Homo sapiens: one gene and its partner. The protein of the gene in region 1 purifies or fractionates together with the protein of each later gene. This does not show direct contact. Each region holds a gene or a part of one and is shown in the gene's direction. Other genes may lie near its edges.

The links.
Region 2: the proteins of MAP2K5 (region 1) and C10orf88 purify together in Homo sapiens (affinity purification with mass spectrometry; 2 studies listed by BioGRID and IntAct, with this or other methods). This does not show direct contact.

What each region holds. Positions count from the first base shown.
Region 1 is NC_000015.10:67,643,682-67,650,702, forward strand, and holds part of MAP2K5 (dual specificity mitogen-activated protein kinase kinase 5), read left to right. Parts: intron 1-2,549; coding exon 2,550-2,618; intron 2,619-2,706; coding exon 2,707-2,788; intron 2,789-7,021. UniProt on the Homo sapiens protein: Acts as a scaffold for the formation of a ternary MAP3K2/MAP3K3-MAP3K5-MAPK7 signaling complex.
Region 2 is NC_000010.11:122,951,220-122,958,659, reverse strand, and holds the start of C10orf88 (ATPase PAAT), read left to right. Parts: upstream 1-4,432; 5' UTR 4,433-4,481; coding exon 4,482-4,645; intron 4,646-5,627; coding exon 5,628-5,831; intron 5,832-6,633; coding exon 6,634-6,706; intron 6,707-7,440. UniProt on the Homo sapiens protein: ATPase that regulates mitochondrial ABC transporters ABCB7, ABCB8/MITOSUR and ABCB10. Regulates mitochondrial ferric concentration and heme biosynthesis and plays a role in the maintenance of mitochondrial homeostasis and cell survival.

The sequences.
Region 1 (7,021 bases):
GTGATCTGCCCGCCTCAGCCTCCTCCCAAAGTGCTGGGATTACAGGCGTGAGCCACCGCGCCCAGCTGCAAACTCTTGATAGAAACCACCTATGCCTTTTTTTTCCCCACCTTCCGCTTCCCCAAATCAACGCCTGGCCAATGTCAGGACTATAAAATGTACTTTAGAATTGTCCTTTTCTTTCCTTGCTCTATTAGCAGTTTATAATGCATAACTTATGCTTTTTTCTTCAGTATGATTGTATATATATTCTTCAGTTGTAATACAAAATGTAATTCAAAGTTGAATGCTACATAACTACACTATCATAGTAATTCTGAATGTTAAGTTTTTATCTAGAAATGTCTAGAGCCAGAAACTCTGCCACAAATCATAAAAATTGTTTTCCACCTATTCTATTCTCATCACTGCCTTTTAAAAGTAAAAAACAAGCTGGGCACGGTGGCTCACGCCTGTAATCCCAGCACTTTGGGAGGCTGAGGCAGGTGGATCACCTGAGGTCAGGAATTCGAGACCAGCCTGGCCAACATGGTGAAACCCTGTCTGCGCTAAAAATAGAAAAATCAACCGGGTGTGGTGGCAGGTGCCTGTAATCCCAGCTACTTGGGAGGCTGAGGCAGGAGAATGGCTTGAACCCGGGAGGCGGAGGTTGCAGTGAGCCAAGATCGCGCCACTACACTCCAGCCTGGGTGACAGGGCAGGACTCCATCTCTAAATAAATAAATAAATAAATAAAACAATTACTCTTGAATTAGTTTCACTGACATGCTTAGTAGAATTTGAACAGTATGGTCTTCTTTCTTAAAAAAATATGTGTTTGAAATAAACTAGAATTTATTCTAGATAAGTTTATAAATATTTTATATTTATGGGTTATAAATCACTGTGGGTAATATCACTCAGTGATTGATATTTTAAATAAACCATAAAGTACTGAAAAGCCCATGAGACTGAGTCCAGAGGAGGGGGTCCTACCATTCCCAGGCTCTGTGGCTCCCAGGAGGGAAACGTGGTTTCCTCCTCACTCAAAAGAAGGGAGTTAATGAAATAAGATTTCTTCAAGCTTTAACTTTCTGTAACAGGATTAGCAAAGAACATTACCTGACTGGAAAAAAAAAAGATGATATATTTTTAAAATTCCTTATTTCTCTCATAACTAAAAACCCCACTTAAAATGTTATTTTTGGCTGGGCATGGTGGCTTACGCTTGTAATCCCAGAACTTTGGGAGGCTGAGGTGAGCGGATCATTGAGGTCAGGAGTTCAAGACCAGCCTGGCCAACATGGTGAAACCCCATCTCTACTAAAAATACAAAAATTAGCCAGGTGTGGTGGCAGACACCTGTAATCCCAGCTACTCAGGAGGCTGAGACACGAGAATCGCTTGAGCCCATGAGACAGAGGTTGCTTGAACCCAGGAGACAGAGGTTGCAGTAAGCCGAGATCATGCCACTGCACTCCAGCCTGGGTAACAGAGCAAGACTCTGTCTCAAGAAAAGAAAAAAGTTATTTTTTGGCCAGTTGTGATGGCTCATGCCTGTAATCCCAGTGCTTTGGGAGGCTGAGGTGGGCAGATTGCTTGAGCTCAGGAGTTCGAGACCAGCCTGAGCAACATAGTGAAACCCCCATCTCTACCAAAAATGCAAAAAATTAGCTGGGTATGGTGGCACACCTGTGGTCCCAGCTACTTGGGTGGCTGAGGTGGGAGGTTTGTTTAAGTCTGGGAGGCAGAGATTGCAGTGAACCAAGATCGCCCCACTGCACTCCAGCCTGGGTGACAGCATGAGACTGTGTCTCTAAATAAATAAATAAAATGTCATTTTTATTCATCATCCTCTCTGCTTATTGCCTAGTGTCTGATCACAAACCACAAGATAGTTCTTTTTTTTAAGAGACAGGATTTCTCTCTTTCACCCAGGTGGGAGTGCAGAGGTGCAGTCATGGCTCACTTCAGCCTCAAATTCCTGAGCTCAAGTGATCCTCCCACCTCAGCCTCCCAAGTAGATTGGGACCACCCGATCATACTACACACAGGTAATTTTTTTTTTTTTTTGTAGAGATGGGTTCTCGCTATGGTGCTTAGACTGGCCATATACCCCTGGCCTTCAGGTACCCTTCCACCTCAGCCTCCCTTCCAGAGTGCTGGGATTACAGGTGTGTGCCACTGCACGTAGCCAACATAATTCTTTTATATTGGTTTGAGGGTCATTCCTATGCTCCTCTTTTGAAAATAGCCAATGTGGCTAAAATAGAGTGCATAAATTAAGAGTGTTATAACTTAACTGACTTTTAAAGCCATTACTATTGACCTTTGAGACCTGGCTTTTTTCTTTGGTCCCATCAATCACTTCTGTACCACCTCCCCCAGTATAGAAGGACAAAAGGTTAGACAGATGCAGATACAGCTTGTATTACTGGGAATTATAGTGGTAAGAAGAAGGAGGTGGGGAAGAATAAAGGAACTACCATGTTTTTAGTTCTTATATTTCATAGTGATTATAACTAATATAATTAGAAGATTAAAAAATATTAATACCTTTCTATATTTAGGTCATACTACTAGATATTACACTGGAACTTCAGAAGCAAATTATGTCTGAATTGGAAATTCTTTATAAGGTAATTTTTTCATAATTTTTATTTGTAAAGCATGCCTATGGTATTGACTTGCAGGTTTATAACTACTTTTGTCTTATTTTTGTTACAGTGCGATTCATCATATATCATTGGATTTTATGGAGCATTTTTTGTAGAAAACAGGATTTCAATATGTACAGAATTCATGGATGGTGAGTTTTCCCTTTTATAATACTTTTAAAATGATTTTTAGAGTATATAGTGCTTTAAAACCTGGTTTTGATATAGATATCAAATAGAATTAAAGATAATAAAATATGCTAATAATTACCTCATTTATACTCTAAGATTATTTCAGTGTTAGGGGTTCCTGGGGTTAAATATTTATAGCCGAACTGTAATTTTAAGAATTGAACTTCACTTTTATTGAAAATTTAAATAGAACAGATTAAATGCTAGTCTAATTGGTGGTTTGATATTTGATTCTTTTGCACAATCTGTCTTTACTTGCAAAACAGATGTTCTGTTCTTTTAATGTTTCAATAGCCAAAACAGATTTTCTTTTAAAGAAATCTATTAACCCAATGTCCTGTGTCTTTCAGAAAGAAATCGGTTCTTAATTGCAAGATAAGAAATTGTTTTTCAACACAGCTGTTTAGCCAAGATGTGTTTAATTTTCTTTGGACTTTAGCCCTTTCCTTCCCTCTCTATTTTTTTATTCATTTCTATTTTGGTAGTTCTTTCTTGACCTGAATATTACGGCAAAATACAGATTTCTAGGGACATATCAGTGAAATGATGTCATCATTATTATTATTTACCAATTTTAAATCTAAGCAGTCTTTAAATTTTACATATTCAGTTTTCCATAGTCTAGTCCATTAAAACACAACTTAAGAAAATATTGTTAGTTCCTTGTGGAGATTCTCAGTACATTACTAAAGCAATTAGTTTGTGCCCTGCAAAACTTTAATGAGCCAACATTGGTACCTTGATACTGTCATAAGGTGTACAACATGCTCTAAATTAGTTATAGTAGAATGTCAAAAATTAAAAATCTTACAGCCATATAGGTAAGTATGGTAACTGTGGAGACTGACCAGAAAAAGTGGATTCATTGAGCCAGTACATGTTACTGTGTTGTAACTTTTATCATTCTTTCTTTGAAGTCTTCAATTTTTCAGTTCTACTCAAACATTTTTGTTGAAACAGGGCACGGTGGTTCACGCATGTAATCCCAGCACTTTGGGAGACTAAGGTGGGAAGATTGCTTGAGCCCAGGAGTTTGAGACCAGCATAAGCAATATAGTGAGATCTCATCTTTACAAAAAAATTTTTAAAAATATGGCCGGGCACGGTGGCTTACTCCTGTAATCCTAGCACTTTGGGAGGCCGAGGCAAGCGGAGTTTGAGACCAGCCTAACCAACATGGCGAAAACCCGTCTCTATAGAAAATACAAAAATTAGCCAGGTGTGGTAGCGCATACCTGTAGTCTCAGCTACTTGGGAGGCTGAGACTGAGAATTGCTTGAACCTGGGAGGTGGAGGTTGCAGTGAACCAAGATCGCGCCACTGCACTCCACCCTGGGTGACAAAGTGAGACTCTGTCTTAAAAAAAATAAAAAAAGGAAAATTAGCTAAGCATGGTGGTACGGGCCTGTAGTCTCAGTTACTCTGGGGGCTGAGGTGGGAGGATTGCTTGAGCCCAGGAGATTAAGCCTGTAGTGAGCTGTGATCGTGCCACTGCACTCCAGTCTAGGCAACAGAGTGAGACCCTGTATCAAAAAACAAATAAATTAAAATTTTTTATTGAAATATAACTCAGATACCATAAAATTCACCCTTTAAAAGTGTACAATTCCATGGTTTTTGATATACTCACAAGGTTGTGTAGTCATCACCACTGTATAATTCCAAAACACTTTTTACCACCCCCAGAAAGAGACTTCCTACCTATTAGTACTCACTCTCTACTTTCTCTTTCCTCAAGTCCTTGGCAACCACTGATTTATCTTCTGTCTCTATGGATTTACCTATTCTGGACATTCCATATAAATGGAATCTGATAATATATGGCCTTTGTGTCTGGCTTCCTTTACTTAGTATAATGTTTTCAGTGTTCATCCATACTATTGCATATATGAGAACTTCATTCCTTTTTATTGCTGAATAACATTTCGTTGTATGGCTATACTACATTTTGTTTATTCTTTCATTAGTTGATGGACATTTGGGATAGTTCTACTTTATGCATAATTATGAATAATGCTACTCTATATATTTGTGTACAAGTTTTTGTGTGGACATACGTTTTCAGTTCTTTTTTTTTTTTTGAAACAGAGTCTCGCTCTGTCGCCTAGGCTGGAGTGCAGTGGGGTGATCTCGGCTCACTGCAACCTCCACTGCAACCTCCACCTCCTGGGTTCAAGCGATTCTCCTGCCTCAGCCTCCCGAGTAGCTGGGACTACAGGCGCGTGCCACCATGCCCAGCTAAGTTTTGTATTTTCAGTAGAGACAGAGTTTCACTGTGTTAGGATGGTCTCGATCTCCTGACCTCGTGATCTCCCCGCCTTGGCCTCCCGAGGTGCTGGGATTACAGGTGTGAGCCACTGCACCCGGTCAGTGTTTTCAGTTCTTTTGGGTATATACCTAGGAGTAAAGTTGCTAGGTCATATGGTAGCTTTATGTTTAACTTTTTAATAAACTACCAAACTTTTCCAATCTGTTTTACACCACTTTGCATTCATACCAGCACTGTATAAGGTTCCATTTTCTTCATATTTTTGCCAATACTTGTCATTTTGTGTCTTTTTAAAATTGTGGGCTTGTAGTGTGACATGGTATCCCATTTTGGTTTTGATTTAGGTTTCTCTAATGACTAATGATGTTGAGCATCTTTTCATGTGCTTATTGGCCATTTGTATACCTTCTTTTGAGAAATATGTTTTCAAATCCTTTGTCTATTTTTTAAATGAGTTATTGGGCTTTTATTGTTGAGTTGTGAGAATTCTTTATGTATTCTAATACTTGGCTCTTATCAGATATGGGATTTCCAAATATTTTCACTTATTGTTTATCTTTTCACTTTCTTTTTTCTTTTCTTTTCCTTTTTTTGAGCTGCGGTCTCATTATGTTGCCCAGGCTAGTTTTGAACTCCTGGGCTCAAGTGATCCTCCCACCTCAGCCTCAAGTTTTATTGTTTTAGCTTTTATATTTAAGCCTTTGATTTATTTTTGAGTTAATTTTTATATATGGTATGAGATAGGGGTCCAAATTTATTCGTTTGCATGTAGATATACATTTGTTCCAGTACCGTTTGTTAAAGACTGTTTTTCCCATTGAATTTTCTTGTTATACTTGTTGAAAATTGACCATAACATATATTTCTGTACTTTCAGATCAATGCGTATACATCTCGCATTGATCTAGTTGTCTATCTTTGTACCAGTACCACACCATATTTGATTACTTGTACTTGAAAACTCTGGATTATTATAGTTTTTAAGTTTCAAATCGAGAAGTGTAAGTGCTCCAACTTTGTTCTTTTCAAGATTGTTTTGGCCATTTTGAATACCTAGCATTTTCATTTGAATTTTAGAATCAGCTTGGCAATTTCTCCAAAAAAATCCAGCTGGGATTTTGATAAGAATTGAATTGAATTTTTAGATCAACTTGGGGAATATTGCTGTCTTAACATTATTTAATCTTCCACTCCGTGAACACAGATGTCTTTCAACTTACTTAGGTCTTCTTTAATTGTTTTTCAATGATTTAAAAATAATTTTTAGGGTATAAGTGGTAACTATTTGTTAAATTTGCTTCTAAGTTTTTTTAATGCTGTTTTTCTTAATTTCATTTTTGGATTGTTCATTGCCAGTGTATAGAACTGTAATTGATTTTTGTATATTGATCTTGTATTCTGCAACCTTGCTGAACTTGTTTACTAATGTTAATAGCTTTTTGTGGATTCCTTAGGGTTCTCTATATACAAGATAATGCCATCTGCAAATAGAGGTAGTTTTAGTGCTTTCTTTTCAATTCTGAATGTCTTTTATTTCCTTTTCTTGCTTAATTACCCTGGCTAGAACCTTCAGTACAATGTTGAATAGACTGATGAGAGCAGACATCCTTCTCTTGTTCCTGACCTTAGAGGGAGAGCTTTCAGTCTTTCACCATTAAATATGATGTTAGCCATGGGTTTGGAATAGTTGTCCTTTGTCAGGTTGAGGAAATTCCTTTCTATTTCTAGTTTGTTGAGTTTTTTTTTTTTTTAATTATGAAAGGGTATTAAATTTTGTCAAATGCCTGTTTTATATCTATTGAAATAATCGTGCATATTTGGTCCTTTATTCTATTAATATATGGTATACTATATTAATTGATTTTTGCAAAATGAACCAGTCTTGCAGTGTTGGAATTATTCCACTTAGTCATGATGTGTAATT
Region 2 (7,440 bases), on another chromosome or scaffold:
TTAACCTGCAACCCAACAGTACAACATATTCCTGAAGGGATGTTAATAAACTTACCTCAAAATTCTATCATTCTGCACAAAGATGGATTATTTCTGTAGGAAACGTGCAATATTACAAATGAGTTGACAGCATATTATGCAGAATTTTTGATGAGTTACTTCTTCTGAAGGTGCAAGTGCCATGAATGCATAACGAAACATAACAAATCCTACAGCTGATTTAGCTTGGATGCTATTTTCCTTTGTTAACATAAAAAAAGAGTTTATTCACCCAGACCTTCCTTTAAGACTCTAAAACCCTCTAAGTTATTGCCAAGTTCCCAAGGAAACAGGATAAAACCATTTTTACGAAATGGGTCCATTAAGAAAGTTTATTTTAAGCCAGGTGTCCTGAAGCTGGAGTGGATTTTTCCTTTTTCCCTTTTAAATAAACCATAAAATATAGTTGGTGATATGGTTTGGCTATGTCCCCACCCAAATGTCATCTTGAATTGTAGCTCCCATAATTCCCACTTGTTGTGGGAGGGACCCAGTGGTTATCTTTTCAATCCATTCTTTAAGTACTCATTCCTATTAGTGTACGTTACTACAGACTCAAGAACAATGTTGTTGATTTTTTAATTAGAAAGCTATAAAGGTGTAAAAGGGTTCTGAAACCGAAGTGTTAAGGAACTCTGTTATAAAGCCCACAGTTAGCAGCAAGATATGGTTATGTGATTCCCACCTACCTCACCCTGAAAAACCTTTCTTTGTATCTAGATAGGTATAGAGTATTATTTATTTAATTTTAAATAATTATTTAAAATTGAGCTCCAGAGATCAAACTGACAGAGTGTGTCTCAAGTGTGGCCTTACTATATAAATCACACTGTTGATATAAGCTAGCTAGGTATACAAAGACACTCTTATCAGGCAGGACATTCCAATAGGTTAGCGGTCATCTTCCCAGAGCTGGTCAAGAGCCAACTTCTTTGGAAGCTGCAGGGTTTGAACCTCCCAGACTTCCTGAGTTAACCCTTTATTGCATAACAGTTTTAGACAAGATTGGGCATGTTCAGGGTGGTATGGCCATCGACTATTGCATAAGAGTTTTAGGATAAGAAAGCGTCATACAGGTGATAATCATGGATGCGGGCACAGATTCAGCTCTAGTTCGAGAGCTTCTGCAGCATTTCTACATTTCCTCAGAAAGGTTGTATTGAAAATGATATACAGTCTAACAATGTTTCTAACTAGAACAGAGGTTCTAGTTAAAATGAGGTAGAAAGCAGCTATAAATGAAGTTGGGAGAAAAAGATAGGAAGGTTGTTCTTTTCCACTCTGTTAAAATTGCAGGCCCTGTATTGAGGCAGGGTGAGAAGGAATTCCTGGCAACTGTGGGACCTGCAAGGACCAGAAGAGAGGGAAAGGAGGAGAGAAGGTACAACTCAAGTGGTCCTGAGAAGGAAGTTAAGTTCCTATAACCACCTTGCTGGGAAGTATACTCCTGTGTAAAAGGCAGGGCATATATAGTAAGAACTCAATCTACTTAAGATAGTCAAAACATCTAAACTGTGGCATTACTAAATGAATGTGCTCAAGAAAATTAGTATCCTAAGTTACTTTTTTCTAAAATGTACCTTTCAAATGTGCGTTGGCTCATATTCTGAAAACAGATTTGAAATATGCTCCTAAATATTGAGTTCTTGCATATCATTACTGGTGGGAAATTTCCAACTGTATTAGCCATCTTCACGCTGCTGATAAAGACATACCTGATACTGGGTAATTTATAAAGACAAGGTTTAATGGACTCACAGTTCCATGTGGTTGGTTGGGGAGGCCTCACAATCATGGCAGAAGAGCAAGGCAGAGGAAAGAGAGAATGAGAGCGAAGCGAAAGGCGCTTCCCCTTATAAAACCATCAGATCTCCCAAGACTTATTCACTACCACGAGAACAGTATGGGGGAAACTGCCCCCACCATTCAGTTATCTCCCACGGGGTCCCTCCCACAACAAGTGGGAATTATGGGAGCCACAATTCAAGATGACATTTGGGTGGGGACACAGCCAACCATATCACCAACTATATTTTCTGATTTACTTCAAAGAGAAAAGTAAAGCAAAAAACTCACTTGTAATTCATGACAAGAATAATGTATCATATTAAGATTGAAGTCAGCTTTGAACCATAACCATCCTGGCTTTGGAAAAAAGCTTAAGATTGAATGTACTAATTTTCCTTTTTCTGCTGCTCTTAGTTTATGTGATAAAAGCTGTCACCAACCTATCAATTCCATACAACAAACCTGTACTCAACATAATGTCTATCTCAGCAAGCATGCAGATAGTAGGGAACACAGATATATAAACAGGCAAAGTCTGACATCAAAGGAGAATTATACTACCTAAAAAAGTGGTAATTGTAGCACAGAGGAATTTGTTTAATTCTGTAGCAGGATGAAGTAAGCTTGGTTTCGCATGATAAATAGGATTTTTCCTACTATTGAAAAAAATGGCATTCTAGGTAGAGGAAACTGGAAGGTAGGCAGGGTTCAAAGTACAAAGGACTCTGCATGCTATGCTAAGGAGTGAAGGTGTTGATTCAGTCAGGAACATTGATCACCAGAAGGAGAAGAGGGCAGTGCAAAGACTGAAATGGAAGGAATCAAAATGAAAGCTACTGACAAACTCCTGGAATTGTTCAGATAAAGCTAGTGCTTGGAAACAGAAGAAGCAGAGATAGGAAAATTTTTCTTTAAGAAAATGAAGACTTGGTGGTTTATTGGCTGTATGGAAATAAAGGAAAGGATAGACCATAGGAATCTTTTGTTTTCTGATTCCTGGACATTCAGCTTTATTTAAGGAAGTCAAAATCCAGTTTATAATATTGCTATTGCTCATGAAATTGCAGATTAGTTTCTGAAGAGCCTATTTTCCTTCGGATTGTCCACATGTATTAATGTGGATCAAAGTTAACTTACAACCACAGGAAGCAGGACATACAGGACAAAAATAATGACAAGGACAACTTAGAATGAGTCTGAAATATTAAAAAAATCTTTGCAAACGAGGACTTTACAATTCTGCTATGATAGACCTTTGGTGACATTTCTCTCTTTCAATCTTGGTGAATTCACCTACCATACGTACATTCTGGTGATTACTTATAGAAAAATACATTTGGTCATCATTTTTCTTGCTTTGACACAGGTAAACAGAATGCAAAGTTTATTCTCATTTTTAGCTAGAGGGCACAAGTCCTAGTACATAAACTCAAACGAAAACATAAGCAAAAAGATTAAAGTAATGCGCACTGAGTCATGAACCCAGAATAGACAGCTCTGAAAGAAAATTAGAGTATGGGTGAGCAAAAACGTTATTTCCTAGAGAGGATACCACCTTAAACACAACTTTGGAACTCTAGATTATAGACAAGTGGAATTTCAGAGTTTGCTTTTTTCAAAAGACAGAAAAATAATCTGCACAAGCCTCTACAGGAGGAGGATGAGGGGGCACACTATATACAGTCCCATCCCGTGGGGCATCTAGAAAGTTCCATCTGCTCCCACTGTTCTGCATCCGTAGCCTTAAGTTCCTTCAAGACTGAGTTCATATTCTACTTCAACAGAGTTCTGAGACCCCCCCTTTCCACTCGCTGTTTCCAGTGCCATGAGGAGCGATCTCATGGGGCAGCCCCTGCCTTCGGTGTCTGGGTCTTTCTTGCATTTCAAATTTCTGTCACCTAGAGCGTCCAGCCCTGGATGCCCGGGTTCCTGCGGCCTGAGGGTTGCACATGGGGTCAGGGGGCGTCAGCTGAGACAGCACCCGGCGAAGGCCAGCGTGGCTCAATGCCCATCACAGATGCCCTTCAACCCCAAAACCCCATCATCCGCTTCAGCCCCCCTCTAAAGCGAGAATATGTGTGAGGGAGGCTAGGAGAATTCGAAGTAAAAATAACCCGAATCGGCAGCGCGTCCGCCGCGCTAGCTGCCACAAATGCTGCAGATCCGACGGAATGGAAGCAGAAAAGGCCCTGGCGTCCCCTTGGGAAAGAACGAGGTCAGGAGTCGGTCTTGCACGCAGCGTAGAGCGACGAGACTACACCTACCTGATCACAGACGTTCCACACCAGCTCAGCAACGGTCGTCCACGCCGCTTGCTGTTTCCCCACAGCCAACGTCGAAAACACCCTCGTGCCGGCGCGCAGTGCACCGCGCCTGCGCATAGTCTCCAGCGAAAGAGCAAGGGTCTGCCAGTGCGCATGCTCCGCTCTCGACCTCCTCCCCGCACACTTTGAACGCCGCGCCTGAGGCCAGCTGGCACATGCGCATGCGTGTCTCTGGTGCCTGCTCTCCCCACCAAAGCAAGAAGCGGCGGGTACTTGAAGCGGAGTGAGCCGGAAGTCGCTTTGCCTGCCCATTTCCACGCTGTACCGGCGGAAATTCAAGCACTGGAAGAGAGGTTCCGGGGCTGGGCTGGCCTGACTGAAGGCGGCGGAATGGAGACGCGGACCGAGGACGGGGGCCTCACCCGCCGCCCCACGCTGGCCTCTTCTTGGGATGTTGCAGGCGGGGCCCTGACCCACAGCCTCCTCCTCACCCGGGCCGGTCTCGGCCCCGGTGACTTCGACTGGGAGGAGCTGCTGGCACCGCCTGCTCCAGGGTGCGCCGGGCCGACGGGGACGGGGTCGCTATGCTCGGCAACTGCCGCGCTTCTAGGGGAGCTGTGAGGGGAGGCGAGAGGGTCTGAGCCCGGGATCCGGGAGAGCAGTTGGTACCAGGTCTCTAGTTGGGGAGGGGAGCTGCGAGGTCGTCCGGGGTGGGCGGAGGGGGGTGGGTCCGGCCGGGAAGGGGCCGAGGCTCCTGGGCGTGAGAGGGGGAAGGTGACCCGGACTCGGAATTTCATATAACGTCCCCATCAGGCGTGATAGCCCCTCAGGGCTGCTGTCAAAGTCAGTCCGCCCCTCTACCCTCAAACAAGACACCTCCTGTCCACCAAAACAGGCTGTGTAAAAAGTCCAGCTATAGATGATCGCTGTCGACTTAATTTCGAAAAAGATACACTTTTGTCTTTCATTGTGCCCTGCACCCAGTAGGTGCCCAGTGATTTATGTAATTATCCGAGAGTCAATTGCAGGGGATTGAGTAGAATGTTGATTGAGGAAAAAATAGAGTTTGGGAAAGCCCTGATGTGTGACACCTTCATTTCCGTATGAATTCTGTGTTGAGCGCTTCTTGGATGCTTGGGAAGGTGCTTGGACCTCAAGGGCAAGTGGAAGTGAGTTAGAAGAAAGAAGCCCCGGCCGGGCACGGTGGCTCACACCTGTAATCCCAGCACTTTGGGAGGCCGAGGCGGGCGGATCACGACGTCAGGAGATCAAGACCATCCTGGCTAACACGGCGAAACCCCGTCTCTACGAAAAATACAAAAAATTAGCCGGGCGCGGTGGCGGGTGCCTGTAGTCCCAGCTGCTTGGGAGGCTGAGGCAGGAGAATGGCGTGAACCCGGAAGGCGGAGCGTGCAGTGAGCCGAGATGGAGCCACTGCATTCCAGCCTGGGCGACAGAGCCAGACTCCGTCTCAAAAAAGAAGAGTCATGTTCAGAGAACTATACTGTGTGATGTTTTCACCAATTTTCTTCTCAGTCAGGATCTGGTGATTTTGAAGAGAAACCACAACAACAAAGATGAAAACCCCTGCTTCCTTTACCTGAGGTGTGGCCCTGATGGAGGTGAAGAAATCGCTTCTATTGGCATTTTAAGTTCAGCAAGAAATATGGAAGTGTACTTAGGAGAGGAGTACTGTGGAACCAGTAGGGGCAAGAATGTTTGTACTGTCCTGGATGACAGGTGTGTGACTTGTACACGGGAAAGTGTTCTTCTGAAGTAGTGTTTTGATTTTTCTCACTTTTTGCAATAATTATTGATTCTCTGATATTGATACCATATGTTATGGGAGAGAAGATAAAAATGTGCCAGTAGGCATAGAAGTTTACAACTTTAGAGATCTTAAAAGACAGTGTAGATCAGCCTAGTTATTTTTATAAATGTTGAAATTTAGAACTAACAATCAAGGTGAATTGGTAGGAGGTCATAGCTAGTTAGTGGAAGAGTTTTATTAGAATGAAATTTTGAGAAGTGTGTCTCTTTCCTTAAACTCACAGCAGTCTGTCTTCCGAAAGTTAATTTGGTAGTCAGTCTGGAACTTTGAATACATTTTCTTCTTGGAAGCCTATTAGAAATGGTGGAGGGATCTAAGACTGTGCTACATAAACCTATTTATTAACCTGTAACGCAACTTGTGATTTTTTTTCTTACGAAGATTTTTCTCCAATCTGTCTTTAACACAAAATATGAACTGTTTTATATCCTGCATGTTGGAAACAATTGCTGTGTTTATTGAGCTTTAAAATACAGTCTGGCTACATGGTTGTACATATGTTATATAATGTAATTTTCTCATTGAGCCTAGTAAGTGGTAGATGTAATCATAGGCAGTGTGCTTCAGTTATGGAGCCCAACTCTTCATGCCTCACCAGGAAAACTGAATCTTAGGATTTCAATATTGTTCTGGAAACATTTATTTTTAAGTGTAACTATTAAAAGTGACAATATATGTAAGTAAAAAAAATTAATTCTTTTTTATTTTTAGTGAACATGAAAAGATCATTTTGTATAAAAAAAATCTAAAATTGGAGTCCTCCACACATGCTTGTAAAATAAAGGTAAGTTGTCAGTTGTAAACTAATTTGACAACTAAGTTGTTTTTGTACTCTGTGTATGCTTGTTTTCTTTTGGATTAGTAATACAATTAGTCCAACTTGCTTGCTTGCTTTTTTTTTTCTTTTCAAGACAGTATCTTGCTCTGTTGCCCAGGCTGGAGTGCAGTGGGACAATCATGGCTCACTGCAACGTCATCTCCCAGCTCAAGCTAACTTCCTACCTCAGCCTCCCAAGTAGCTGGGACTACAGGCATACACCACCATGCCTGGCAAATTTTTTAAATTTTTAGTAGAGATGAGGCTCAGAAATACTTAGTAAACATGTACAAAGAAATTACTTTTCTAAAAAATTATCAGCCCTTTTTAACATTGAATTAAGAAATTTTTTTTTTTTTAAATTTTTCACCCGGTGACCAGTGAGTAGACTTTTTCTCTTAAAATTTAACCATGAGCCACGTGCAGTGGTACATGTTTATAATCCCAGTTACTCAGGAGGCTGAGGTGGGAGGATTGCTCAAGCCCAGGAGTTCAAGACCAACCTGGGCAACAGAGTGAAACCCCATCTCACTAAAAAAATAATAAAAATAAAATTTGACTATTTATTAACCTTGGATAATGTATTGTTAATATGGTAGTGCTGTGTATTTTGAAGTGTTGGGAAATTGAGCAAAAAACATTTTTAAAAACTATATAAACTGTGATGGCAAAAACCCATTTATAAAAGAACAAAATTAGAG